Homo sapiens: one gene and its partners. The protein of the gene in region 4 purifies or fractionates together with the protein of the main gene of each other region. This does not show direct contact. Each region holds a gene or a part of one and is shown on either strand. Other genes may lie near its edges. The genes, in order: RTN3, RTN4, SPTLC2 and FAM241A.

Region 1 (7,028 bases), on a different chromosome or scaffold from region 4:
CCCAGCACTTTGAGAGGCTAAGGCAGGAGGATCGCTTGAGCCCAGGAGTTCAATACCAGCCTAGGCAACATAGTGAGACCTCGTCTCTATCAAAATAAAAATAATTAGGTCGGACGCAGTAGCTCACACCTGTAATCCCAGCATTTTAGGAGGCCAAGGAGGGTGGATCTCCTGAGGTCAGGAGTTCAAGACCAGCCTGACCAACATGGTGAAACCCTGCCTCTACTAAAAATACAAAAATTAGCTGGGCATGGTGGCACATGCCTATAATCCCAGCTACTTGGGAGGCTGAAGCAGGAGAATCGCTTGAATCCAGGAGGCGGATGGTGCAGTGAGCAGAGATCGTGCCACTGCACTCCACCCTGGGTGACAGAGTGAGACTCCATCTCAAAAAAAAAAAAAAAAAAAAAAAAGAATTAGCAATATTAAATCTCAAGAATAAGGAAATCCACAGAGTCAGAAAGCAGATTAATAGTTGTCAGAGAATTGAGGGGAGGGAAGAACGGTGAATTACTGCTAACAGATATGGGGTTTCTCTTTGGGGTAATAAAAATGTTCTGGAATTAGATAGTGGAGATAGCTGTACAACCTTGTGCATACACTAAAACCCACCTTAAAATGGTGAATTTTATGGAGACAGAGGATGAAAAGCCAGTGAGAGTGAGTATGTGGTGTCACAGAAGACAAATTAAAAAAGCATTTCAAGGAGAGAATAATCAATTATGTCAAAAGCTGTTGTGAAAGCATGTTAAGAGGAGGATGAAGTGACCACTGAATTTAACAATGTGGAAAATATCTGGTGAACTTGACTAGAAAGTTTCTGTAGAGCAGTGAAATAAAAAGGCACCTGGCTTAAGAACCGTGGAGCCAGAAATTAAGACTTTTAAATTAAACTGATCACTGAATTCAAAAGGGTAACTGAGCCACTTTTACTACATGTTGCTTCAAATCTTAAAGCGTGGGCATTAAACTCTCTGTGCCTGAGTCCCCATCTGTAAGAAGGGGGTTATATCGCTACCTGTCTACCTCACAGATAAACATAATACAAGTCTTTCCTCTATAGAATATGGCCTCTAGAGGAATGATCTATATTTTATTTACCTTTCTGTCTTCCACAGCACCTGGCAAAGAGCCTTCATGTATGCTCAGTTGTTGAATTAAGGTAACATATGGGCACAACTTAAATCATAAAGCAGTACACAAATGTAAGATATCGTGAAAATCAAGTACTTCTATCTCATACGTAAAATAAAGACAATGCCCTCCACTGAAATATGTTCAAATAACAGGACACAATTTTCATAACAAAAGGTTTTCCAGAATGTCCTTCCATATATCTTGAAGGGCGAGCTACCAATGAGGAACAGGTCAAAAAGCTCACCGTTCCCTCTGGTTAAGTTATGATGATATGGTTACAGGAGATAATAAATCAGTTGATTGGAGAAAACAGGTAAGAATAGTTCTTTGAGACTGGGTGTGGTGGCTCACATCTGTAATCCCAGCACTGTGGGAGGCCGAGGCGGGGGCAGTTCACTTGAGGTCAGGAGTTCGGGACCAGCCTGACCAACATGGTGAAACCCCATCTCTACTAAAAATACAAAAATTAGCTGGGCATGGTGGCACAAGCCTGCAATCCCACCTACTCAGGGGGCTGAGGCAGGAGAATCGCTTGAACCCGGGGGGCGGAGGTTGCAGTGAGCAGAGATCCCACCACTGCACTCCAGCCTGAGCAACAGAGGGGGATTCTGTCTCAAAAAAATAGTTCTTTGAAATAAAAAAAAAAAAATCAAAAATCACAAGAGTGGGCCACTTGCTGATAAGCTCACTGTCTTCTCTGGTTAGGTTACAATGATATGGTTATAGGAGATAATAAATCAGTTGATTGGAGAAAACAGGTAAGAATAGTTATTTGAAATAAAAAAAAAAAATCACAAGAGCAGGCCACTTGCTGATAATCTTCTCCCATACGTAAAATGGAAATGCAAACCCCGTTACAGTATTTAAAGAGATTCTCTCTGAGGTTGCAATATCACAGAGTAACATGTCTTACAAAACTCACAGATGCCCAGAAGACTTCAATGATGCAATCACAAGCAATACTGATTACAGCTAAACTTATTTAACACACACACTTCTTTCAAAACATCAACACCATACCCTATGATCCAAAATAACTCTACAACTAGTAGCTGTCATAAATGAACAGAATAGAAGGTTAAGTCAGTTTTCTGGGCAACTTCTGAATAAGTCAATTATAAGAACAAAATATCGACCTGCTAATTTTTGTCTAAAAAGTTTTACTATGAGTGCTTACTTCAGCAGCACATATACCAAAATTAGAACAATACAAAGAGTATTAGCTAAATTAAGAGAAAAAGTTATACTACAAAATTGATGAATTTTTCACAAGTTTGTATACTTTAGGAGGCTAAATTCATCATCAACAATAAAGTTAACACAAACTATAAGCTAAGTGCACACAACAAATATGCACATTTATATTAGAAAACCTACTTACTTAATGAAGCCTTTGTAATTCTGTTCAGAATTACAAAAATGGTAAATTCTAGGATTATGGGTAAAGAGAAGTGTCTTTCTGCAAAATATACTCTTGACTCAAACAAAATTGGAAAGCTCAACTTTCCCTTTTCCCTTCAACCAGACGTCACCAATTCCTTCATGACCAAACTTCATTTTACAAGGCTTGAAACATGCACAGGACTAGACAGGTAACTCCTATATCAGGATAAATATATTATTTCCTCACAGGATAATTTGATAAAAGCAGTAATATTGGTTTTTATTTTCAGCCCATCTTTAAAACACCAAGAATAAAAACACTGAGGTTCTTACCAGCCACTTAATGAACAACCCCTTAGAAATGACAATTTAGGGTAAGGGTGCACCTACTAAATGTATGTAGATTGGTTGTTTAATTTGATCAGAGTGGTTCCATTACTTGTGAATTTGACAATAAACAAAAACAGCATTAAAAAAAAACTTCTTGGCCGGGCGTGGTGGCTCACGCCTGTAATCCCAGCACTTTGGGAAGCCAAGGCTGGCGGATCATGAGGTCAGGAGATCAAGACCATCCTGGCTAACATGGTGAAACCCTGTCTCTACTAAAAACACAAAAAATTAGCCAGGCGTGGTGGTGGGCACCTGTAGTCCCAGCTACTGGGAAGCTGAGGCAGGAGAATGGCATGAACCTGGGAGATGGAGGTTGCAGTGAGCTGAGATCGCACCACTGCACTCCCGCCTGGGCGACAGAGCGAGACTCCGTCTCAAAAAAAAAAAAAAAAAAGCAAAACACACTTCTTATTCTTGGAGAATAAAAACAATCCAAGTCAGCAGGCATTTGCAGGCCATATTGACATGACCATTCTTGCTGTCTCCTGTATGCTTGCCTCTGTGCTGAAAGGGGTTTCCTAATGTATCATAACAACATTTATTAGTCAGAATCTGCATAAGTATTTAAGCATATTGATTCATGCCAAGCCTTCTGGGAAACATCTTGACTCCTCCCTCTACCTCTTTAACAGACCACCTCAGTGGAAGCGGGTGGCAGCTTTATGACATTAATGTGAAGGGCCACAAACTGAAACAACTGACTCACATGTGGAAAGGGAAAAAAGGCATAACAATAGTCTTTGATTGTGAGGAAGACAGATTTCTCATTTGTACTTGAACTGCTATGTGGTATCTATTAATATGTGCAAGTAGTTTGTAACCTACAAATGGATGTCAAACATTAGGTATTGTTATTTAATAAAGGTCAGGATTTAAGGGTACAAAGCAAATGTGTCTAGGTCACATTGTTGATCTATATTTCATTTCTTCACATTAATGGTACAGTTATTTACTACAGGCAAGACACTGTGTTAAGCCCTATAAATGTGTTCACTTTTTTTTTTTTTTTAGATGGAGTCTCACCCTGTTGCTCAGGCTGGAGTGCAATGGCGCTATCTTGGCTCACTGCAACCTCCACCTCCTGGGTTCAAGTGATTCTCCTGCCTCAGCCTCCTGAGTAGCTGGGATTACAGGATTACACCCAGCTAATTTTTTGTATCTTTAATAGAGGCAGGGTTTCACCATGTTGGCCAGGCTGGTCTCGAACTCTTGACCTCAGATGATCCACCCGCCTTGGCCTCCCAAAGTGCTGTGATTACAGGCGTGGGCCACCGTGCCCAGCCAAATTGTGTTTAATTTTCATACCAACTCCAAGATAGATACTATTATCCCAATTTTCAAGTTAAGGAAACTGAGGCTCAGGACTTGCACAAGATCACATAATTATTAAGAGACAGGGCCAGGATTGAAATCTAGGCATTCCTGGAGCTCAAGTCTGTGTTTTAACACATTACACTGCCACTGATAATCTGACACGAATGTAACACTCAGATGATGTCAGTGTTGGACGGGGGCCACATTCCTTTTTATTTAAGGGTTAACTCAAAACACAAATTACATATTCACATTTGATTAATATGGTAGAACAAAGTGTGAAAATGAAGCCATAAAAAGTACACAGAACAACTAAGTTTCATGAGTGAGGAAAGAAATATTTAAAGCAAAACCTTTTTCAAAAAATTGCCCAAGCTGTTTTTGCTTTGAGCTAATTTCCATGAACAAACATATAAAATGTAGTTTTATTTTGGCATCATGATTTTCTTTTTTCCTTTTCTTTTCTTTTTTTTAAGACAAGTTCTGGCTCAGTCACCCAGGCTGGAGTGCAATGGCACAATCTCAGCTCACTGCAACCTCTGCCCCCAGCTCAAGCCATCCTCCTACCTCAGTCTCCTAAGTGGCTGGGACCACAGGCGCACATCACCATGCTCAGCTAATTCTTGCTTTTTTGTCTTTTTGTAGAGATGGGGTTTCACCACTATTGTCCAGGCTGGTCTCAAACTCGTGAGCTCAAGCAAGCCACCCACCTCAGCCTCCCAAAGTGCTGGGATTACAGGTGTGAGCCACCAGACTCAGCCAACTTTCATAACAACAATAAAAAGCAGTCTCTAGCAAGTATAGAATTTGTTCTTTTTTTTTTTTTTTTTTTTGAGACGGAGTCTCGCTCTGTCCCCCAGGCCGGAGTGCAGTGGTGCAATCTAGGCTCACTGCAAGCTCCGCCTCCTGGGTTCACGCCATTCTCCTGCCTCAGCCTCCCGAGTAGCTGGGACTACAGGCGCCCCGCCACCACGCCCGGCTAATTTTTTGTATTTTTAGTAGAGACAGGGTTTCACCATGTTAGCCAGGATGATCTCGATCTCCTGACCTCGTGATCCGCCTGCCTCGGCCTCCCAAAGTGCTAGGATTACAGGCGTGAGCCACCGTGCCCGGCCAAGTTACAGAATTTCAACATCGTGTCATCAGTAAACTATTAAAGTACTTTTAAAGTTCAGATGATAGACGTGTCTCTATACTTGAGGCCTAATAAAGGCAACTCTTGCTCTGAAATGAACACTGAATATTTCAGTCTCTTTTACCTCAACCTCAAATTTTTGCCTCTGATATCTTCAGTTTCCTTCAAAGGCAGAAATCTGGGAAGCCATCCTGACCCCTGATCCCCATCTCTAAGCATACTACATTGCTGGCTGCATTAGAACCTAAGGCACTAAAGTACAGAGTGCCATCACTCATTCTTGACCTGTATATAGTAACTAATACTTCTAAAATTAATTACTGGACAGGTCAGTCAAGACAAAATTGTTTTCTGTAGGACACCAACCAATCACTTATTTTTCTTTAACTAAAATCAAGACAAGTCTCCAAAACCAAGAGGAGCTTGGTGAAAGAACATGAAGCTGGAGGATGACAGCAATACGTACAGATTTTTTTTTTAAACAATTAAGGTAATTTTTTAGCATCTACATTTTAAATAAGTTAAATTTTGGAATAACAAACTTCATCTTATTTTCATGGTGCAAAAGCCTGAGACACTTCCTTTGTGACATGAAGAAAAACATCCAGCAAGGAGGAAAGGCTTCTGCAATAAAAATGATTACAACACATTGCAGTAACTTTTTTTTTTTTTTGAGATGGAGTCTTGCTGTGTCGCCTAGGCTGGAGTGCCATGGTGTGATCTCAGCTCACTGCAACTCCCGCCTCCTGGGTTCAAGTGATTTTCCTGTCTCAGCCTCCCGAGTAGCTGAGACTACAGGTGCCCGTCACTGTGCCCGGCTAATTTTTGTATTTTTTAGTAGAGACAGGGTTCCACCATGTTGTTCAGGCTGGTCTCTAACTCCTGACCTCAGGTGATCCAACCACCTCAGCCTCCCAAAGTGTTGGGATTACAGGAGTGAGCAAGCGTGCCTGGCCCCACACTGCAGTATCTTAAGGTAAACTTTTATGTTCAAGTAGTGACCCAACAAATGAGGATCTTGCATTGGGCCCACCAAAACTGTATTAGTGCTTTTTAGACAATATGAATGCACATTTGCAATGGATAAGCATTTAAGATAAGAGTCTCTTGGCTGGGCTCAGTGGCTCATGCCTGTAATCCCAACACCTTGGGAGGCCGAGGTGGGCGGATCACTTGAGGTCAGGAGTTCAAGACCAGCCTGGCCAACATGGCAAAACCCCATATCTAGTAAAAGTACAAAAATTATCTGGGCGTGGTGGTGCATGTCTGTAATCCCACCTACTCAGGAGGCTAAGGTGGGAGAATGGTTTGAGCCCAGGAGACAGAGGTTGCAGTGAGCCAAGATCACACCACTGCACTCCAGCCTGGGCTACAGAGCGAGACTCCAAAAAGAGTTTCTCTTTAGTTTATTTCTCAAGTGTGCCTTTCTAGCTCGTAAATTTGATAATTTATTCAACAAATACTTACCAAGTACTACTATATATCACTGTTTTAAGTGCTAATAGTGATACGTGTCTACAGCACATCTAAGAAATACAAATTCTGTAATAAAATTTTACTAAGAAATAATGGGTAAAGCTGGTCACAGTGGCTCCCATCTGTAATCCCAGCACTTTGGGAGGCCGAGGAGGGCAGATCACATGAGGCCAGGAGTTTGAGACCAGCCTGG
Region 2 (7,028 bases), on a different chromosome or scaffold from region 4:
CAAAGACAATATAAGGAAATCAGAGCTCATCTTGCCCAGACGGTCAAAATTAACATAACCAGTGAGGGACTGATGAATAGCAGATAACTCTAGAAGTGGTGCTATGAGAGGGACACATCATCATCTATACAGTATCATAAATGAACCCATAGCCTCAAATTAATCACTAGGAAACATCGGACAAATCCACTAGGAGGAATGTTCTATTATAAAGTCGGGGGAAGAGAGGCCCTGTGTTCTTTAAAACTGCTAATGTCATAACAAATAAATAAAGACTGAAATGGGAAGTCCTACCCAGAGCAATTGAGCAAGAGAGAAATAAAGGATATCCAAATTAGAAAAGAGGAAGTCACATTGTCCCTGTTTGCAGATGACATGATCTTATATAAAGAAAAACCTAAAGACTACCAAAAACTTGTAAATTCTGTAAAGTTGCAGGATATAAAATCAATAACAAAAATATCGCATGTCTTTACACAAACAACAAACTAGCTGAAAAAGAAATCAAGTAGGAAACTCCATTTGCAATAGCTTAAAAAAAAATACCTCAGAATAAGTTTAACCAAGGAGGTGAAAGACTTCTACGAGGAAATCTACAAAACAATGATGAAAGAAATTGAAGAGGATACAAACAAATGCAAAGAAAGACATTCCATGTTCATGAATCATAAGAGTTAACATTGTTAAAAAATGGCCGTAATATCCAAAGCAGTCTACAGATTCAATGCAATCCCTAATAAAATACCAATGACCTTCTTCACAGGAATAGGAAAAAAAATCCTAAAATCTGTATGGAACCACAAGACTCCAAAAAGCAAAAGCAATCCTGAACAAAAATAAAGCTGGCGGAATCACACTACTAAATTTCAAAATATACTACACAGCTATAGTAACCAAAACAGCATGGTACTGGCATAAAAACAGAAACACAGACCAATGGAACAGAACAGATAACCCAGAAATTAATTAACATATCTATAGCCAATCAATTTTTGGAAAAAAAAAAATGCCAAGAACATTCATTGGGGAAATGCCAAGAACATTCATTGATACTACTACTGAGAAAAAAAATCAGTATTTACATTCCAATAGTAAGAATATAGTTTGTCACAAATTTCTTTGTAAATGGAGGGGGAGGAAGACCAGAATTCATTAGTTTCTTGACAAACTTTACTTCCCAAAATTAATAAAGCACCATCTGCATCACAATACCTTATTCATCTCTCTTGCAAAATCAATCTTTCTTCCCAAAACTAAAACTGATTTCTGCCTACAAAATGTCATTTTAAGAAAACAAGAACAGGAAAGTCCTGGAGGCTCACACCTGTAATCCCAGCACTTTGGGAGGCAGAGGCGGGAGGATCCTTGAACACAGGAGTTTGAGACCAGCCTAGGCAACAAGGCAAGACCTCCTCTCTACAAAAATAATTAGCCAGGCATAGTGACACGAGCCTTTGGTCCCAGCTACTTGGGAGGCTGAGGACCACCTGACCCTGGGAGGTTGAGGCTGCAGTGAGCCATAATCTCACCACTGCACTTCAGCCTGGGCGACACAGCAAGAACCTGTCTCGAAAAAAGAAAAGAAGAACATATGAGATAATAAATGATCTGAGGAAATTAGTATTTTATTATTTAATAGTTTAAATGTTTAAATGCATATACATTAATAAGACCCAGAATTTTTTTAAAAACACACTTAAATATTTCATAATTAGAGATGGCATAAAACTTTTAAGTCATCTGAGAAGAGAGCTTCCCTTATGTTTTATCAGACCACTGCTGTATTTTGGTACATTTGACTTCAGTACACTTGAACCTCCCTTTCACGAAGATACACAGGTAAGTACCTATCCTCACTATAACATAGATCACAATGTTTAACTATGTCCTCAACAGTGTGTCTGTACCAGCTGGCTGTAAGTTGCATAAAGCGCAAAACTTTGTCTTAGTTTCATCTTTTTCCCTGCCCCCCCCGCCAAAAAAAAATCTCATATAGTGCCTGATAGAAGCATGTTAAAGCAACTCTTACCTGCTTTTACACTTTTTTTTTTTTTTGTCTTTTTTTTCTCCCTTTTTTGTGGAGAACGGAGTCTCACTATATTGCCCAGGCAGGTCTCGAACTCCTGGGCTCAAGCTATCCTCCCACCTCTCCCTCCCTGAAAGCTGGGATTACAGGCGTAAGCCATTGTGACTGGCCACTACTTACCTGCTTTTAACAGATGCCTGTTATATAATCAAGTCAAGAAAATTATTAAGTTGCAAGGACTTGAGCTAATCCACCCTTCCTTTTATAGAAAAGGAAAATGACATCTAGAGAAACAAAGTGATTGTCAGTGGTATAGCCAAGACTAAAACCTCAGGTCACCTATATTGTTTTCATTATAGCAATACTGGGTTTCCTTCCCACAACTTTTGTAGAATATATATATTGGGTGTATCTAAATAATTCTCTATTCCCTAGTAAGTTGCTATGATAACTAATATCAAAAAAGGTTAAGTCAAAAAGGCAGGAAATAACAATTTTCTCAGAGAAGGGAGATAAACATATTCTAAAAGAGAATGCCCAAGCATTGCTTACACTTTCTTCCACCATTCCCATTAAGCTTTCAAAGGCAATGCCCCCTTTTCTTCCCTTACTTCTAAACTATTAGGCTATAGATTTCCCAGGTTTAACAAAAACAATCCAAGAAATAGGTGACTCCTGAAATACTGAAATTCCTAAGGGCCACCATCTACTAGAGGACTGCTAGCTTTAAGTTTTGGGAGGAAGCACTAGCGGGGAGGGGAGACTTCAAAGGTGTTGCTACACCGATTACTCCTTGCTCTTCACCCAGTCATCACCAAGCTGCTCTGGGCTTCTGAGACCCTTCTTTCTACTGTTCCCTCCTAAACCATTTTACTGTGCTGTTTGAAACCCCCATTCCACTGTGAACCAGCTCCTCTACTCCTCAACATCTTTACTGAACATTCCTGCCTTTACCTCGCCTTCACTAAAACCTGGCTGTTCCTTGAAGATACTGGTTTCCCTGTGGAACTTGCTAAATGAAGGCTAAATCGTTCTCTCATATTCTACACACCTAAGGGAGGAGTGGGGAGGTCAGTACCCTCTGCTCACCAATGCTGCTTCCAGACTTTTATTTCAGAGACCTTGGGCAAAAGTCTTGGCTATTCCGCTACGTCATTCTCTGTCCTTCCTCATTTCTTCTACCTACCATCCTGCCAGTTACCTCACTGCCCTTTACCAAGGACTCTAACCCCAGTATTCCTCTCCACCCCTAGTCCTGCCATCACCCTGGGTGACTTCAATGTTAGGTAGAAGTGCAATACAGTATCATGGCCTCATAGTTTACTTGACCTCACCTCTAGCAATCTTAATCTGACTACACAGTAGGCCTTTGCCTGATGGCCTAACACTGGCCATTATAATCAACCTGAACTGCTATTCCTCTGAAATTCTAAATTCAACATCCAACACACACACACACACACACACACACACACACACCCTGCTCTCCCGCACATGCATTCTTTCTCTCCCCTACTTTGACCACAATCTCCTATCATTCTGGCATGTATTTATTCCTACTACTATTGGTTCTTAAACCTAATCTGGGCCTTGAGTTCACTGACCATCTACTCTCCTCCTACCTCTCCTACCTTTTTCTATTCACATCCTTCAACTTAGATGCCACAGTCCATCACTTCAAATTACTCTCCTGCTATCACCCTCAACTTTCTTGACTTACTGTCCTTCCACAGGGCCCACCTGCCAAAACACATCCTTGAATCAATACAATCATTTGCCTTCCCTGAACCCATACCTAGGTTGTTTGGCACAATCAAAGAAAAGTCACCCTACCATTTAGACCACCTTTCAACCTTGATTAGGCTCCTAATACAATGCCTTTGGTTTCCCTAGTCAGAGGTATTGCAGATCTCTTCCACCCAAGCATGATCTACTTCATTCCCAGCAAATGAACTAACATACTGCTTTAAAGAACAAACATAAACCATCAAATAATTCCCTCAACTTTCAGTCACAAAACCCTAACAGTATCAATACCCCATACTTTCCTTTCCACTCACTACAATCAAAGCTCTATCGTTCCTTCTCTCTAACACTAATTCTTCCACCTGAACTAGGCAGCACATCCCCATCCCCTTCTGACTTTCTGCCAGCACCTGTAATCAGATTTTCCCCTTCCCACCTTAAAAAAAAAGTCCTACCTCCACTGCATACTCTCCTTCCTGCTTGCTAATATTTTAATTTTTCTCCAATAAAAATCTCAAACTTCTTAAGAGTAATCAACATTTAATAACCACTTACTCAAGTCTCATTCACTTCTCAATCCTAGCCATGCCCATGCACACCACACCATTTGCCGCTGTCATGACAATATCTTCCCTCCTTTTTGACCAACTTGCAATCCTTAACTGACCTCTCCAGTATTTGATAATTTTGACCATTTCTTCCACCTTCAAGTAGTCCTCTTCTCTTGATTCTTCCTAATTGGTATCTGGGGCTTTAATTTCTATCTCTAAGCCCATGACAGACACATACAGCCAAGATCTCTCTCAAGAGCTTCATGTGTATAATATCCATAACTTACTGGATATCTTAGAGGTATGTACATCAATACCAACATATCCAAAACCAAATTTGTATCTTCCCTCTTAAACCTACTTTAATCTCTCATGTTCCCTATCTCAGTTTCTCATACTGCCACCCATACAAGTGCACATGCCAGAAATGAAATCCAGGGTTCCTGGGGTCATCTTTACCTCTTCCCCTCATCCTTTATGTCCCTATCCGTCAAACACCAAGTCCTATGTCTCTGTGCTCATCCCACTGCCTGAATGTTCATAATCTCCTCTTTCTTAGATTACAGCAACTGGTCTACCACTGTTCCAATGGTGATGAGCTGGACTGTACTGCTGAAGCACCAGCACTTAAATACATAAGTATATTCAGTAAATTTATCATAATCACTATTTTAGAGAAAACGCAGCTAAATCAGAATGCTAATAAAGAGCACATGTGCAAATCACCTTGTGCAAATCACCTTATGCAAATCAGGTATGTGGAAAATGGATAGTCAAAAGAAAAAAAGGAGAATCGGTACTTTTCAAAAGAATTCATAATAGCATAACTCATTTTATACTTTTCAACAAAATGTCTACACTCAATATGCCTAACTTTATACCTACCACTGGAAAAGTACTATATTATATAGAAATATTTAAAACATACTATAGAAATTTTCTTTAAAAATTAAATATGGTAATTTCTGGGATAACAAAAACACATCTGAAAATATTTTAATATCTCTTGCTCTTCATGTTATCAAGAAACACAAGTGAAAAAAGAAAGAAAGAAAGAAATAGGTACTAAAGCCAATTCTTATAAACAAAAATATTTTCTATTAATAGTTCCATAGTGCAATATAAAAGTGTAACTGTGTGGAAAAGTTAAGGGTGAATGCTGAGTGCAAGAGAGTTAGAAAAAGCACTAAAACCTTTAACTGAAAAAGTGGAGAAGACTTCTTACCAATGTGACATATGAGACACTATAAACATAATATAAAACACAAAATGTAGTGGAATGTTCCCTAAATCCAAAAGTGGCATGAAAGCACAAAACTGCATATAGATTGGATTACCTGAAGTTTTACTCAGCTCTGCTGAAAATATAGCAGATGGTGATCTGTCCTCTTTTTCTGTATCGGAAGGAAGTTTTTTCTCAGCTTCTTTCACAAGAACTTTGGGTTTAACTATGCTCTCTATCTCTGCTTGAGTGGCCAAAGCAGAAACATCTGGAGGCAATAAGAGCACCTTTGATGTAGCAGACCCATTTTTAGAAAAGTCATCTGAGAAACTGATTTTCTCTTCAACTTTGGGTTGTATGTTCTTCAAAGAAAGGTCATGGGGCAATTCTGTGCAAGGCAATGACCCAGCTCCATCCGGGGCATTAGCAATTTCACTTTTGTGGGATACTTCTAGGTCAGTATATTCCCTGGCTAATTTAGAAAATGAATCAGTTTTAGAACTGATCAATGTAGGGAACTCATCTATAATTTCAATTGGAGATGAATCTGAAAACGTTTCAGTTTCTCTTATCTGTGCTTCCTTAGAAATAAATAAGTCATCATTTGAATAAACTGCAGTACTGAGCTCCTCCATCTGCAAAGGAATTTTCTCCTTTTTGCTCAATGTTGAAACTTCATCAGGTAACAGGGTATCTTTTGTGTTATCTAAACTGAGCTTAAAAGATTCCAAATATGGCTTTCCTCCCTCAGGTGGCAAAGCACTGAGTTTTTCCTTATTTTCATATTCTATCATTGACTCAAATGAAGTCTCAGTGAGACTTTCTTTCACAAGCATCACAGTTTCATCTTGTTTTTGTGGAACGTCAGGTATTGAATCATCACTAAATAAGTCAACTGGTTCAGAATCAGGTGAGGAATCTTCAACTAGCTCAGAATGATCAGGCACTGGCTGTTCAACTTTTGCCATTTCTGAATAATCAGAGAAATCCGGAGCTGGTTCAGCAGAAAGCTTTGTTTCTTTAATTAAATCACATGCAATAGATATATAAGGAGCTTCTGTTTCTTGAAGAGCTGCATTAATATTTTCAGGCTCTTTAATTTCTTCCTTTATTCCTGATACTTTTTTTAGTGATACACTCATGGCCTCTTCATATGGTGGGGGGTTTTCAGGCTCATGTTTTATGCTTTCATAATTAACTGAAGAAGCTTCTAATGGTGATGAGCTGGGCTGTATCACGGAAGCACCAGCACTAGGAACTGCAGAATTCAATGGTGCTTCCATAACAATGTCAGGCAAAACTGGTGAAGGAGTAGCTTCTGACTCTTCAAATGATGGGCAAAGCTGTGCTGCAGGATAGAGTGACTCTTGCATAACTTCTGATGTTTGAACCAAGTCCATTTTTGTTTCATAAGCAATCTTTGTACCAGTAACTTCATTCAATTCACTTTCACATGCTTCCTGTACTAAATCTGGAGTCAGGC
Region 3 (7,028 bases), on a different chromosome or scaffold from region 4:
CAAAATCAACATAATCATTTCATTTTTTTTTCCACTCATTCTACAAATACTTAATTTCTATCTATATGTCAAGAACTGTACTCTAGGCTGGGCACAGGAGCTCACGCCTGTAATCCCAACACTTTGGGAGGCCAAGGCGGGAGGATTGCTTGGACCCAGGAGTTTAAAACCAGCCTGGACAACATAGTGAAACCCTATCTCTACACAACATTTTCAAAAGTTAGCCGGATGTGGTGGTGCATGAATGTAGTCCCAGCTACTGGGGAGGCTGAGATAGGAGGATCTCCTGAGCCCAGAAGGTTGAAGCTGCAGTGAGCCATGATGGCGCCACTGCACTCCAGCCTGGGTGATAGAACAAGACCCATCTCAAAAAAAAAAAAAATTGTACTCTATATTTCATGAAACAAATAAGAGGTAAGAGGTAATCCTTGTCTTCAAGAATTGTGCAGTATTTTGTTTGTTTGTTTTTTTAAGAGAAAATGGATGTAAATATAAAAGGAAGTAAGGAAATCATTTTAAAGAATATCACCTAAAGGAATTTATATTTAATATGTAAGACGAAAAACACATACAAAGTAATAAGCATTTCTCTTACAAATGTTTCTCAAGCTGTCTCTTCCTCCTCATTTGACTGACAAAATCAAGGAAAGTAGATTAAGCAATTTGTCAACAGTCATGGGAAAGCTAAATATCAAAGTTGGAACTAGAGTCCAATTATTTATAGGTTGGTGCAAAAGTAATTGCCATTAAATGGTTTCCGCCATTAAAAGTAATGGCAAAAGTAATTACTTTCAATGTCAAAAACCGCAATTACTTTTCCACCAATCAATACATTTTCCATTTGCCATTCCTTAGTTTATATTGCCTGAGATTTTCTTTTTTTATTTTATTAATTCCATGGCTTTCCAATGAATTGAGATTTTCTAAGAATCAAATTTTCCTTTAATTATTTCAGAGGTACTACAACTTAATCTGATTGTTTTAAAATAATCAGTGGCTTAATATTAGAATTTTACTGCAAATTCATCTTCCATACTTATTTTTGCTATTTAAATAATTAGCTATTTTTGTTATTCATGTTATTAGCTACACTTACATGGAGACAAATGGTTATATGGGTTTCCTCTACTAAGAAAATGGGTTTCTAGGAAATGAGGTTTCGCACCAACTAATTTAGTTGTCCTGGAAATAACCTGCTTGCCTATGTAAAAGTCAAGCTTATACAGGAGGCAATAAAGACACTACCCTTTAGCACAACCTGCAGAGCTCTCCAGCACATGGTGGACTGCAGTACAACCAGGATCACAAGCCCGGTTTCTCAGCCCAGCTTCTTGGCATTTGAAATCAATGTGAGAAAAGAGCAGAGGAAAGAGCTGACACGTTTCCCCTTCCTTGTAGCACCAACCGGCGTCTCACAGCTGAAGCCCTTGGTAAGACAATGGAGAGGGTGCCGCAAAAGTCACCACTGGCCCCACTGCCCTGTAGGGAGAGCTTAGGGAGAGGTGATGAAGCATATCAGAGTGTGCCAGACCCCAGGACCTTCTCTGGCCTCTTCCTACTTCTCACAAGCTCTCCCCTCACGCTAGTAAGAACATTCAGTAAACCGCTATTGTTTTAAACCACTTGCAAACCTGATACACTATAAATTAGGCTACGGGTTTCTTTAACAGCTTATGTGTCACCACAATCCATTTCTTACTTATGTCTGTAACATTATTTTAGGGAGCTAGTTTTTGTCAACCAGCAGAGTATGTATGAAATATGACACAGTAATTATCATCAAAAAAATAGAAATAAAACTGTATTCAACATCTAGCTTTATCAAAACTTAAGATTTAGCTTATATGCTTTAGATCTTTTTTCCATTAAATAAAACATTAAAGTTATTCATTCAATACTTATTGAGTCCCTGCTATGAGCTAGGCATGATCTGAGCACTAGAAATACACTCCTGTGAGAGAGGCAGACAACAGATAAGCAAATAGATATACTGTATCAGATCACACTGCTACAATCAGAATAAAATCGTGGAAAAAGAGCATTTTAAACAGGGTGGAGGTAAGGTGTAAGCAGATGGACTTGGAGTAGGGAAGAGAACTCTGTGAAAAAGCTTTCCAGGCTGAGGTAACTGTAAAGGCTAAAGCCCCAGGGACCCCAGGCGTGGTAGGTCACGCCTGTAATTCCAGCACTTTGGGAGGCTGAGACAGGAGAATCATTTGAACTTGGAGGCGGAGGTTGCAGTGAGCCGAGATCACATCACTGCACTCCAGCCTGGGTGACAGATTGAGGCTCCATCTCAAAATAATAATAATAATAATAATAATAATAATAATAATAATAATAAGGCCCCAGGGAGGGGTGCTTGATGGCAATGTGTTTGGGGAACATCAGAAAGCCCGGATTGGCTAGAAAGCAGTGACCTGGCAGGATATGAAGTCAGAGAGGGATGGGAAAGTTCATGGTGGGCCTTGTAAACCCCATTTTGTATTCTGTTATTAGTGACAGGAGGCCATCAGGACAGTGTCAAGATCTGACATGTTTAAGTAGTTCTCCAATCCTTTTAAGAAGTCTGTCCTGGGGAAATGCTATATTTCCTTTCCTCCTCAGAAGAATTGGGAATTTGGTGTTTATCATTCCCCTGTATTTTTAAATACTTTCACTATATAAACACATGGCCATAAACAATGTAGTATTCTCCTGCATGTATTAGTACTGCATTCCTTCAGTAGTATTGCTGAATAATATCCTTTTATATGGATATACCATATTTTATCTACTCATCAGTTGATAGACATTTGGATTGTTTCTACTTTTTGGCTATTATAAATAACGTGGGGCTAGACACAGTGGTTCACGCCTGTAATTCCAGCACTTTGGAAGTCCGAAGCGGATGGATCACTTAGGTCAGGAGTCTGAGACCAGCCTGACCAACATGGTGAAACCCCATCTCTACTAAAAATATAAAAAATTAGCTGGGCGTGGTGGCATGTGCCTGTAGTCCCAGCTACTCGGAAGGCGGAGGCAGGAGAACTGCTTGAACCAGTGGGGTGGAGGTTGCAGTGAGCCACACTGCACCCCAGCCTGGGCAACGGAGTGAGACTCTGTCTCAAAAAAAAAAAAATTTTGCCACTCATGGTGGCATATGCCTGCAGTCCCAGATACTTGGGAGGCTGAGGTGGGAGGATTGATTGAGCCCAGGAGGTGGAGGCTGCGGTGAGCCATGTCCTGCCAGCCTGGGTAACAGTAACACCCTGAATCAATCAATCAATCAATCAACAATGCTGCTATTATAATTAATATACAAGTTTCTGCAGGAACATATGTTTCATTTTTCTTGGGAGTAGAATTACTGGGCCACATGCTAACTCTATGTTTAACTGTTTCCTAAAGTGGCTGCATCATTTTATAATCCCACCAGCAATGTATCAGGATTCTAATTTCTCTATATCCTCATGAACACTTAATACCTGGTTTATTATTTTAGCAATCCTAGTGGTGTGAAATGGTATCTAACTGAGGTTTTGTTTTGTTTTGTTTTGTTGAGACAGAGTCTCACTGTCGCCCAAGCTGAAGTGCAGTGGCACCATCTTGGCTCACTGCAACTTCCACCTCCTGGGTTCAAGCGATTCTACTACCTCAGACTCCCAGAGTAGCTGGGATTATAGGCACACACCACCACACCCGGCTAATTTTTACATTTTTAGTAGAGACGGGGTTTCACCATGTTGGCCAGGCTGGTCTCAAACTCCTGACCTCAAGTGATCCGCCCATCTCGGCTTCCCAAAGTGCTGGGATTACAGGCGTGAGCCACGGTACCTGGTCATATACCTTATTATTTTTTAATTAAATAGAGATGGGGTCTCGCCACGTTGCCCAGGCTGATCTTGAACTCCTGGGCTCAAGCAATCCTTACACCTTGGCTTCCCTTAGTGCTGGGATTACAGGTATGAGCCACTGTGCCCAGCCCTTAATACCTATTTTTTGGAGTAAGACTGGATCACACCCATAGTATCAGTACAACCGCATATTTCACTGTACTTAGAAATTATCACAAAATAGTCTGCTACAGTGGCTGTAATCCCAGCACTTTGGTAGGCTGAAGCAGGAGGATGCTTGTGGTCAGGAGTCTGAGACCAGCCTGGGTGGCTGGGTGCGGTGGCTCACACCTATAATCTCAGCACTTCAGGAGGCCAAGGCAGGAGGATCGATTGTACCCAACAGTTTGAGATCAGCCTGGGCAACATAGTGAGACTCTGTCTCCCTCTCTCTCTGTCTCCCTCTCTCTTTATATATATATATTTTTATTTATTTTTGTTTGTTTGTTTAAGTAAAAAAGAGACTAGCCTGGGGAACATAGTAAGACCCATCTCTACAAAAAAAAAAAAAAAAAAAGGCCAGGCATGGTGGCTCAAGCCTGTAATTCCAGCACTTTGGGAGACTGAGGCAGGCGGATTACAAGGTCAGGAGAGCGAGACCATCCTGGCTAACATGGGGAAACCCTGTCTCTACTAAAAATACAAAAAAAAAAAAAAAATTAGCCGGGTGTGTTGGTGAGCACCTGTAGTCCCAGCTACTCGGGAGGCTGAGGCAGGAGAATGGTGTGAACCTGGGAAGTAGAGCTTGCAGTGAGCCAAGATCGCGCCACTGCACTCCAGCCTGGGTGACAGAGCAAGACTCTGTCTCAAAAAAAAAAATTAGCCCACTGTAGTGGTGCACACCTGTGGACCCAGCTACTTGGGAGGCTGAGATGGGAGGATCGCTTGAGCCCGAGAAGTTGAGGCCGCAGTAAGCTATGACTGTGCTACTGCAGGCCAGGCTGGAGCGAGACCCTATCTCGCCAAAAAAAAAAAAAAAAAGAAAGAAAAGAAATTAACGGAAAGTAGCAGATGGATTTACAATAGACCACATTAAAAAACAAACCTCCGGCTAGGCGTGGTGGCTCACGCCTGTAATCCCAGCACTTTGGGAGGCGGAGGCAGGTGGATCACCTGAGGTCAGGAGTTCGAGACCAGCCTGGCCAACACTGTGAAACCTTGTCTCTACTACAAATGCAAAAATCAGCCAGGCGTGGTGGCGCATGCCTGTAATCCCAGCTACTCAGGAGGCTGAGGCTGGAGAATCGCTTGAACCCGGGAGGTGGAGGCTGCAGTGAACTGAGATGGCGCCACTGCACTCCAGCCTGGGCGACAGAGTGAGACTCCGTCTCAAAAAAAAAAAAACCTAACGCAGAGATTATCTCAATGTTTTATGATCCCACATTAAACATGTATTATTTCTATAATGAGAAGTAAAAATTATTTTTTTAAAAAAGGAAGAATAGCTGCCTCAAGCTTTGCAATAAAAAGTAGTCTTAAAGACAAACTTAAGATAAATTTTCTAACAGTAAATGGGTCAAGAGCAAAGGACTTACTTTTTTATCGGTCACAAATTGTGAATTATATTACAGAAGCTTCTCAGAAACTACCCAGAAGGGAACTGACTTTGAGTCCACAAACCATTTATTTAATCAAGTATGGCACACCCACTCAGAATGCAAACAGTGCCTCTACCCATCCCTCTGAATTGCCTATTCTACCAATAAACACTGCTTCTTTCTTCCAAAAACTGAATCTAATTAAATCAACCAATTAACTGTCTTGCTCAAAGCGGTGCAAATTTCTATGGCACATGGGCAAACCCTAAAAAGTGGGCAAGTCTGACTTTTCTGAACATCCTAGTTCTAAAATACTATCTTAAGAACATAGCTGCTTACACATTTCCCAAGAATTCCTGTTAAAGAAAATTCCTGAGTATCTCAAATAACTCTGGAATTCTTCAGATGCAGCTATGTAAGAATCAAGATATGCTTCCCCTTAGAGTGAAAACTGAAATGAAAATCTTGTCCTCCAAGTTGTAAATTACATTATTTCTGAAAAGCCTTCAGGTATCTGAGGTATCTTATCAGGATCTGCTAAATCTAAATAGATATATGACTATTCTAACTATTTCTACTGTTCTAGCCTCATAACTATCGTCTCCTTTTCCTTAACTATCACATATAAACCCCCAGTTACTGTTTCTCCCTCAGTGGAAACAAAAGCTAGTAGCTATTTAGTAAACCAGCTTTATTAGTTATTTATTTGCCTCCTCCTAAGAAGCAAGACTAACACTTTGTTCTTTCTACTTTGCTTATTATTTAACATAAGAACACAACTTTTGCCCCAATTCCTTGAGATAGAATTTTTTATTCTGTAAGCCAGAGAGCTCTCATCCTTCTAATATCTCATTAAAACTACACCCAAAGGGAAAAAAGTTAGGGTCAAAACTGTCTCAAAGGTAGATAACTTTTTTTCTTTCACACTTATTAACTAACTCAGGAAAGTAAAAGGAAAACCTAAATCTCAAAACTTCTATAAAGAAATGGAAGCTCTTTTAAAAAGAGCTGTTAACGTGAAGTTTTAAAAACAAACACACAAACAAACTACTATATTTCAGGTGCAACCAAAACATGGCATTTATTTCATCAAATGTTAAATCCACAGGAAGAAATTTGGTAATTAAGATCATGGAATAATAATCCAATTTGCTATAGAGAAAAACTTGCTGCAAATCCCCTGGAGATCTTTAAAAACAGTACAGAATTTTCTATCAAGACTGATTTTAATAAACTCCTACAAAGAGATAAAGGACTGAATTAAATAAACTCCCAAAGGTTCTTTCCAATGCTAATGTAAAAGTTTCCCTCGGGCAAATTGCCACACCTTACCTCAAATAAAGGTTTGTGCTCCTCCCACTCATCTGAATAGCAGAGAGGAAAAATTACTGCTCTATTGTTCAACTGTTACTATTGTGAAAACTGTGTGTCTACTGTCATCACTAAACAGCAATGTGTGATTGTTTCATAACTCCTTAACACAGCATCTAGCTCATCAAATTCTAAACCCAAATCCAAGAGTTGTTCTTTTACTATACACATTCATTCATCTCTTCAAGCACAGAAACATACTCTTGAGAGTGTAAAGTGATCCTAGACGTTTCTGACTTCTCTC
Region 4 (7,028 bases):
GTTTTATACTTACCTCCCACTAAACTACATAGACCCAATAAAAGAAAAAAGATTTTTTTGAGGGGATGGATAAAAACAATGAGAATATCAACTAGAACTTAGTCTTTGAAATGATTATAAACAGAAAAATACCAAAATTTGCATTCATTTTTCATTTTAACTACCGGGCTTCAATATTTTTAAAATTATAAGTCATAATTGCAGACACACAAATGAAACCACCAGGTAGTCAAAAAGATACACTCAATTTCAGTAATATCTAACAGACGTATTGGAACAGCTGCCTATTGTAGAGAAAGAAATGGTTATGCAATGGAAAAATAATTAAATAAGAGAAGGGCTTTTCATGAACTAATGATATATAACTGTGGGCCACGAACTCAAGAATATGCCTAACTCAAGCCTCTTTTTTTGTGGCGGGGGAGGGTGGTGGGCGCAGACGGAGTTTTGCTCTGTCGCCCAGGCTGGAGTGCAGTTTGCGATCTTGGCTCACTGCAACCTCTGCCTCCTGGGTTCAAGCGATTCTTCTACCTCAGCCTCCTGAGTAGCTGGGATTACAGGTATTCCCCACCATACCCGGCTGATTTTTGTATCTTTTTGGAGAGGCGGGGTTTCGCCATGTTGGCCAGGCTGGTCTCGAACTCCTGGCCTCAGGTGACCCGCCCACCTCAGCCTCCCAAAGTGCTGGGATTACAGGCATGACCCACCACACCCTGCTCAAGCCTCTTTCTGATTTCAAACTGCAGGTTAAGACATTTCTACATTTTATACTTTTTCAAGAATCTACTTTTTTAAAAAAAAATATGAAATCTCTGGTGACATTACTTAGTACCTTGCATATGCAGGACAATATGCTAGATGCTACTACAAGATGGGTAAACTTATCCATTAAAAGTAGCCAGGCTGGGCACGGTGGCTCATGCCTGTAATCCCAGCACTTCGGAAGGCCAAGGCAGGGAAATTGCTTGAGGCCAGAAGTTCATAACCAGCCTGGGCAACACGGCAAAACTCCATCTCTACTAAAAATACAAAAATTAGCCAGGCATGGTAGTATGCACCTGTAGTCCCAGGAACTCGGTAGCCTGAGGCACAAGAATTGCTTGAACCTGGGAAGTGGAGGTTGCAGTGAGCTGAGATCCTACCATTGCACTCCTGCTTGGGCAACAAAGGACTCTGTCTCAAAAATAAAAAAATAAGAAATAAATTTTAAAAAATAAAGTATCAAACTTAGGGGAAAAAAGTAGTCAAAATCAAATATCTCTCCTGAAAAATGACTTTCCTTCTCAATTCTCAATTTGTGGCAGTGAAAATTTCGCTTCTGCTGTTATTACCTCTAAAACTCATGGAATAAGAAATCCTCAATTCAGTCAGACTGATGGAATTTGCAATCATGCAACATCAAACTTAAATTCCCTACCTCTGTAGGCCATCTGCAGACATTCAAGTAAAATTTAATTAAGAGGATACAAAACAAAAATTAAATTATTTTGGATTAATTGGAAGAGGAAATAAAAGAAATTCTCAAACACAGATATTTAAAAAGTTACATGAAAATAAATACTGTAAAAACCACAATGGGAATTTAACTTTCTTAACATTATGTTTAGATATTAAGTATTAATGATAATTTTATCCTTTATTTTCCATAAAGTTAAAAACATTTGTACCATGCTTTCCTTTTGATTAGAACTCTGATAAGCTGCAGTTGTTGCCCTAAGAAAACAGCAAGAAATAAAGCCAATCACTTCCTCTTCCTATGCCAAGATAAGACTCAGCTGCCAATGAAGTTAAATGGCTGGGGGCGGTGCCGGGGGAAACACTGGGTATGGGGAAAAAGATCAGAAGATAGAAAGTATCTTCTGCATCAGGTTGGTTAGAAACTCGGTTTATCTGCTCAAAAGAAGCTACATTTCAAATGTCTTATTAATTCTCTCAAACACACATAAACACAATGAAATAAAACATAACTAGTAGGAACAAGGTTTTCGGAGATAGGTGGCTGTTACTGGAAGATAAGATTATGACTCCAGAAAAGACAGAAAATGAAGACAGTGTTGCTAAGTCTTAAAGAACACATGAATAGAGACACAGAATTTCTACATATTTCTGTTACAGCAAGACTGATGTCATGGTACTTTGAGTTTTTCCTTTTAATCTTGCCTTATCACTTCTTTTGAATAGGAAACTGAGAATAGTTTGTACAGAGGAGGTGGGTATTTTTCCTCTCAAGGATTAGTGAGCAACAAGGGGGAAAAGAAACCAACTAGAGATCTACATAAAAAACAACATAATTTAGGTTGACAGGTTTAATTTTTTCTTTAGAGATTGTCTATTCTAAACATTAGATACATTGTTTCACAATCTTAACACTTTGTTCAATAAATATTCTATAAATTTGAGAATTACATGTACTAAAAACACAGTTCTATGATGTGTTAGTTGAGGGAAATAAGGGGAGGAAAACCAGAGAAAAAGAAGAAAAATAGAAAAGGTGAGGGAGAAATAAGGAGCAAATATTTATTGAGTGCCTCCATGTGTTAGGCATTTTACATACAAAATGAGACTGAATCCTCATAAAAACTTTAAGAGGTGGGTAGCATCATACCCATTACAAATGAGGAAATTGAATCTCTGACGGATTAAGTAATCAGGATCACGGGGGCTAATAAAGAGTAAAACCGGGATTCAAAATTAGATCTGTCATACTTCAACCCCCTTTTCATTGTTTCATAATGCTCAGCTTCTGCACTGAAGTGGAAGAGGTAGGGGAAGATGTATGCAGAAGAAGAGAAAGTGGTTGAGATGCGTGGGGAGGGAAAAAACACATGAGAGAACGAGACTCAACAGAGACAGAAAGGAGATGGGTGGTAGGAAAGAAAGGCAGAAAAGGAATGTGTGAGAAAGCAAAATACAGCAAGTTGCATACGAGGAGCTGCTAGAAGAGACACAGAGAAAAGTTTGAAATTCTGTTTAAAATACAGGTTTCAAGCAAATAAACAATTTTAACCTATCTATTGGAATATCTATTATCAGAGTAATTACTTTTGACAACTCAAAGGACTGTAACCCTTACATATTTTGAATATTGTTTCTCAACTTTGGCACTATTGAAATTTTGTGCCAGATAATACTTCGCTGTAGGGGACTATGGCATTATACGATGTTTACCAGCATTCCTGGCCTTTTCCTATTAGATGTCAGTACCACCTCCTTAGTTTCAGCAATAAAAAAATGTCCAGACATTGTCAAATGCCCCCTATGGACAAAAGGCCCCCAGTTGAGAACCACTGATTTAGAAGTTCCAGTCTGGATGATTTAAAAAAATGAACAAAAGATGCCTATCAAATGCAAAATTATTCCCTGAGTTACTCTAGTGACTGGATGTCCTTAGGAACAAGATGAGATTAAGTTAGGGCAGAATTCAACTAAGCTCATAGCACTTATTACAATATTGCTTGCAAACTGCTTTTAAAATACGTGAAAGGAAGTGAGTATAAACTAATATTTAGTTTTGAACTACACCATCTAAAGTAGGGCAGAAAATTTGTCAGACTGTTTTTCCATCATGTAATGTGCTTTTTGTATTTGTGAAACAAACAAACAAACAAAAAACACTAGCTTTGGTGTTCGGAAACCTGGGTTCTAGTCTGCTCTAGCATGAGTTAGCTGTAGGACCTACAGCAAATAACGTGGCCTAGGGAACAACTATTGGCTTCTCATATTTTACCAAGAGTTTAAATATACACTTCTAAGAAAATAGTTAAACAACTTCATATGTATATATTACTGATACTATGTTGAAGGGCAAGTGTGGTGAATACAGTATATTGACTTGCTTATTCTCCATTCCCTTGCCAAAATGTGGTCCATGGGCACAGCATCAGCATCACTTAGGAGTTTGTAGAGATGCAAAATCTCAGACCTCACTCCAAACCAACTGAATCAAAATCTGCATTTAATAAGAGATGATTCCTATGCACACTGAAGTTGAGGAATACTTGTGTCAGTTTCCATTGCTATAAAAAAATCAGACACAGACAATATAGCACTGGATAATTTATAAAGAAGAGAGGTTTATTTGGCTCATGGTTCTGCAGGCTGTACACGAAACATAGTGCTGGCATCTCCTTCTGGTAAGGGCCTTAGGAAGCTTACAATCATGGCAGAAGGTGAAGGGAGAGCAGGCAGTGTCACATGGCAAGAGGGAGGGAGGGAAGGAGAGAGAGGGAGAGAGGTCCCAGATTCTTTTAAACAACCAGATCTTGTGTGAACTAAGTGGGCGACAATTTACTTGTCACCAAAGGCATAGCACTAAGCCGTTTATGAGGGATCTACCCCCATGATCAAAACACCTCCCACCAGATCCCACCTCCAACACTGTAGATCACATTTCAGTATGAGATTTGGAGGCAACAAACGCCCAAACTATATTAATGCTGTTCTGCTTTTCGCCTCAGGTGGTTTTCTAATTGCAGAGGCTGGAAAACTTAAAATTGCCTTTCTCAGATTTCGTTTCAGTTAGGACTTTGGTCCAAAATTAGGCCTAACAGCTAACACTCACATGCTAGATAGCTATGTGCCAGAGACTGCTCTAAGTACATCTCATATATTATTAATTCATATAATCCTTCCAATAATCCTATGAAGTTGTTACAATTATTCCCATTATGCAGATGCAGAAACTGCAGCCCAGAGAGGTTAGTTACTTGCCTAAAGTTACAGTCAATAAAAGGCAAACCCAGGTAACCCTGATCTAGAATCTGTACTGTTAATCATATTTCTACTGATAGATCAAAAGGCATGGACCCCCCTCACTGAACCCCCCATTTTGTTTTCTTTTTTACAGATCATCTCATGGAACACACTTTGGCAAATGCTGTTACAGAAGTTCCTTCATTTATTTACTTACATTTATCTATGAGCCAGCATTGTTCTGAAAGTTCTAGGCATTGCCAAAGGCAAGAAATAGAAATGAGACATTATCATTTGAAAGGAAGCAAAATTATTTTTATCTATAAACTGGATAATTATATACCTAGAAGATGCAAATGAATCAAGTCTAAGAGCTACTAGTATTTATTAGTACCAGTATAAAAATTTAGAAAGATGGCCAGTTAAAAATGAAATACATAAAAGCCAATAGCTAGAAACCACCAACAAAATATGATATGGAAAAAATCCTTTTCATAATACCAACAAAAATATAAAAACTTAATACAGACTTTAATATAATCCTTAATACTATAAAAGATTATAAAGCAAGGCAGAAAGTACATTATTCAATGATTAGGACAAAAAAAGATCAGCTCCATACTTCATACAATATAGAAAATCATTCTAAAGAGATTAAATATATAGAGTAAAAAATTAAACCATAAATGCACACATACAAAAGAAAACATAGGCAAATATTTAACTGATTGTAAGATTAGAAAAAATTTCTTAATATGTATAGAAAGAGATACGTGTATACATGTGAGTGGTGTGTGTATATACGAAATTACCAAAAAAATTCCTTTAATAAAAATTCAAAGCATTATCAAATTTTAAAAAACATAAATAAAATTATAAAGTAAATAGCAAGCAGAGAAAATATTTACAGCCAATGTGAAAATAAGGGATTAATATCCTTATAATGCCAAAAGAAAAAAAATGACTAAAAAGAAATACAAATGCCTAATAAATATATGAATGGTTTAGTAAACCTCTCCAGCAACAGCTTACAATATGATAGAAGTTTCACCTATGAAATTGGCAATGATTATAAACTATATTGTTCATTGCTGGCATGGATGGTTTCCAACTGGCCTTTTTACACACCAGTGCTGCAAGTGTAAATGAGTACAACCTTTCTTGAATTAAATTCTTTAGGATGTTTCAAGAGGCTTCAAAGAGTTTGACTCATTGACCTAGTTCTTCTACTTCTAGGAATCTATACCAGGGTAGAAGTTTAAGGATTTACAAGCAAATATTTTCAGACAGCACGATTTATAAAAGAAAGCTTGAAGCAACTTCAATGTGCGGTGTTAGGGGAATGAATTATTTGGCAGCCCTAAAGAGAGTTTTCACATAGAATTTCCATAACATGGGAAAATGACACAACCTTTTGTAAAAGAAGACACAAAATTATATTTATATTAAAACATATTAAAAATACATGTGTGGCTGGGCACAGAGGCTCAGACCTGTAATCCCAGTACTTCGGGAGGCTGAGACGGGAGGATTGCTTGAGGCTAGTAGTTTGAGATTAGCCTGGGCAACATAGCAAAACCCTATCTCAAAAAAAAAGTGTGTATATATGCATATACACATAGACAAATGAATATACTGTAGTAATACCAAGTTTCATATTTGATATCAAAATATTTGATATCAAAATCCCAAAATAGAGTGGGATTTCAAAGGCTTTTTTCTTCTTTAGATCTTTCTATAGTTCTAATTTTCCAAAGCACACATTACTTTTATAATCATAAAGACGTTAAAGCTAGAGTTAATAATTCGAAAGTCAATCTAAGGATAATGGGACTTCCCTATTCTCTAGGTAAGAGGGTCATGTTAGGTTATTTCAGATTGTGAGTGACCTGTACATTGTGCCACATCTAAGCAGATGCTATTGACATTTAAGGCATATAATAATGGACTAGAGATGTTTAGCCTTTCAGCTATGCATCAGGGCACAGAAACTCTTACATAAAGCCACCTGGCATTCACCCTCATGAACATACTTGGATCATCTCTCATACACACAATTACCAACACATATATGGAATAGCTGTGTCCTGTCCCTTCAGTTTCTTGGACATTCCCTGAAATTGCTTCTTTCCCTTGCTTATCTCTCTTTAGACACCTGATCCTATTTCAAACCTGGCACAGTTTCTTCATCTACAGGACTTGATTCATTCTCCCAAGGCCTCCTTTCTTAAGTGACTTGATTTTAACCAGGCATCCTTTGTCAATCGCCCTACCTGGAAAGACTCAGGCCAGAATGACAGAAGAACCTTCATTTTTTGCTCAAATGGAGTAGCATC

What was found.
Region 1: the proteins of FAM241A (region 4) and RTN3 purify together in Homo sapiens (co-immunoprecipitation; 2 studies listed by BioGRID and IntAct, with this or other methods). This does not show direct contact.
Region 2: the proteins of FAM241A (region 4) and RTN4 purify together in Homo sapiens (affinity purification with mass spectrometry; 4 studies listed by BioGRID and IntAct, with this or other methods). This does not show direct contact.
Region 3: the proteins of FAM241A (region 4) and SPTLC2 purify together in Homo sapiens (co-immunoprecipitation; 2 studies listed by BioGRID and IntAct, with this or other methods). This does not show direct contact.

The regions. Positions count from the first base shown.
Region 1 is NC_000011.10:63,684,500-63,691,527, reverse strand, and holds part of RTN3 (reticulon-3), read right to left. Parts: intron 1-7,028. UniProt on the Homo sapiens protein: May be involved in membrane trafficking in the early secretory pathway. Inhibits BACE1 activity and amyloid precursor protein processing. May induce caspase-8 cascade and apoptosis.
Region 2 is NC_000002.12:55,019,426-55,026,453, forward strand, and holds part of RTN4 (reticulon-4), read right to left. Parts: coding exon 5,661-7,028; intron 1-5,660. UniProt on the Homo sapiens protein: Required to induce the formation and stabilization of endoplasmic reticulum (ER) tubules. They regulate membrane morphogenesis in the ER by promoting tubular ER production.
Region 3 is NC_000014.9:77,606,620-77,613,647, forward strand, and holds part of SPTLC2 (serine palmitoyltransferase 2), read right to left. Parts: intron 1-7,028. UniProt on the Homo sapiens protein: Component of the serine palmitoyltransferase multisubunit enzyme (SPT) that catalyzes the initial and rate-limiting step in sphingolipid biosynthesis by condensing L-serine and activated acyl-CoA (most commonly palmitoyl-CoA) to form long-chain bases.
Region 4 is NC_000004.12:112,148,441-112,155,468, reverse strand, and holds part of FAM241A (uncharacterized protein FAM241A), read right to left. Parts: intron 1-7,028.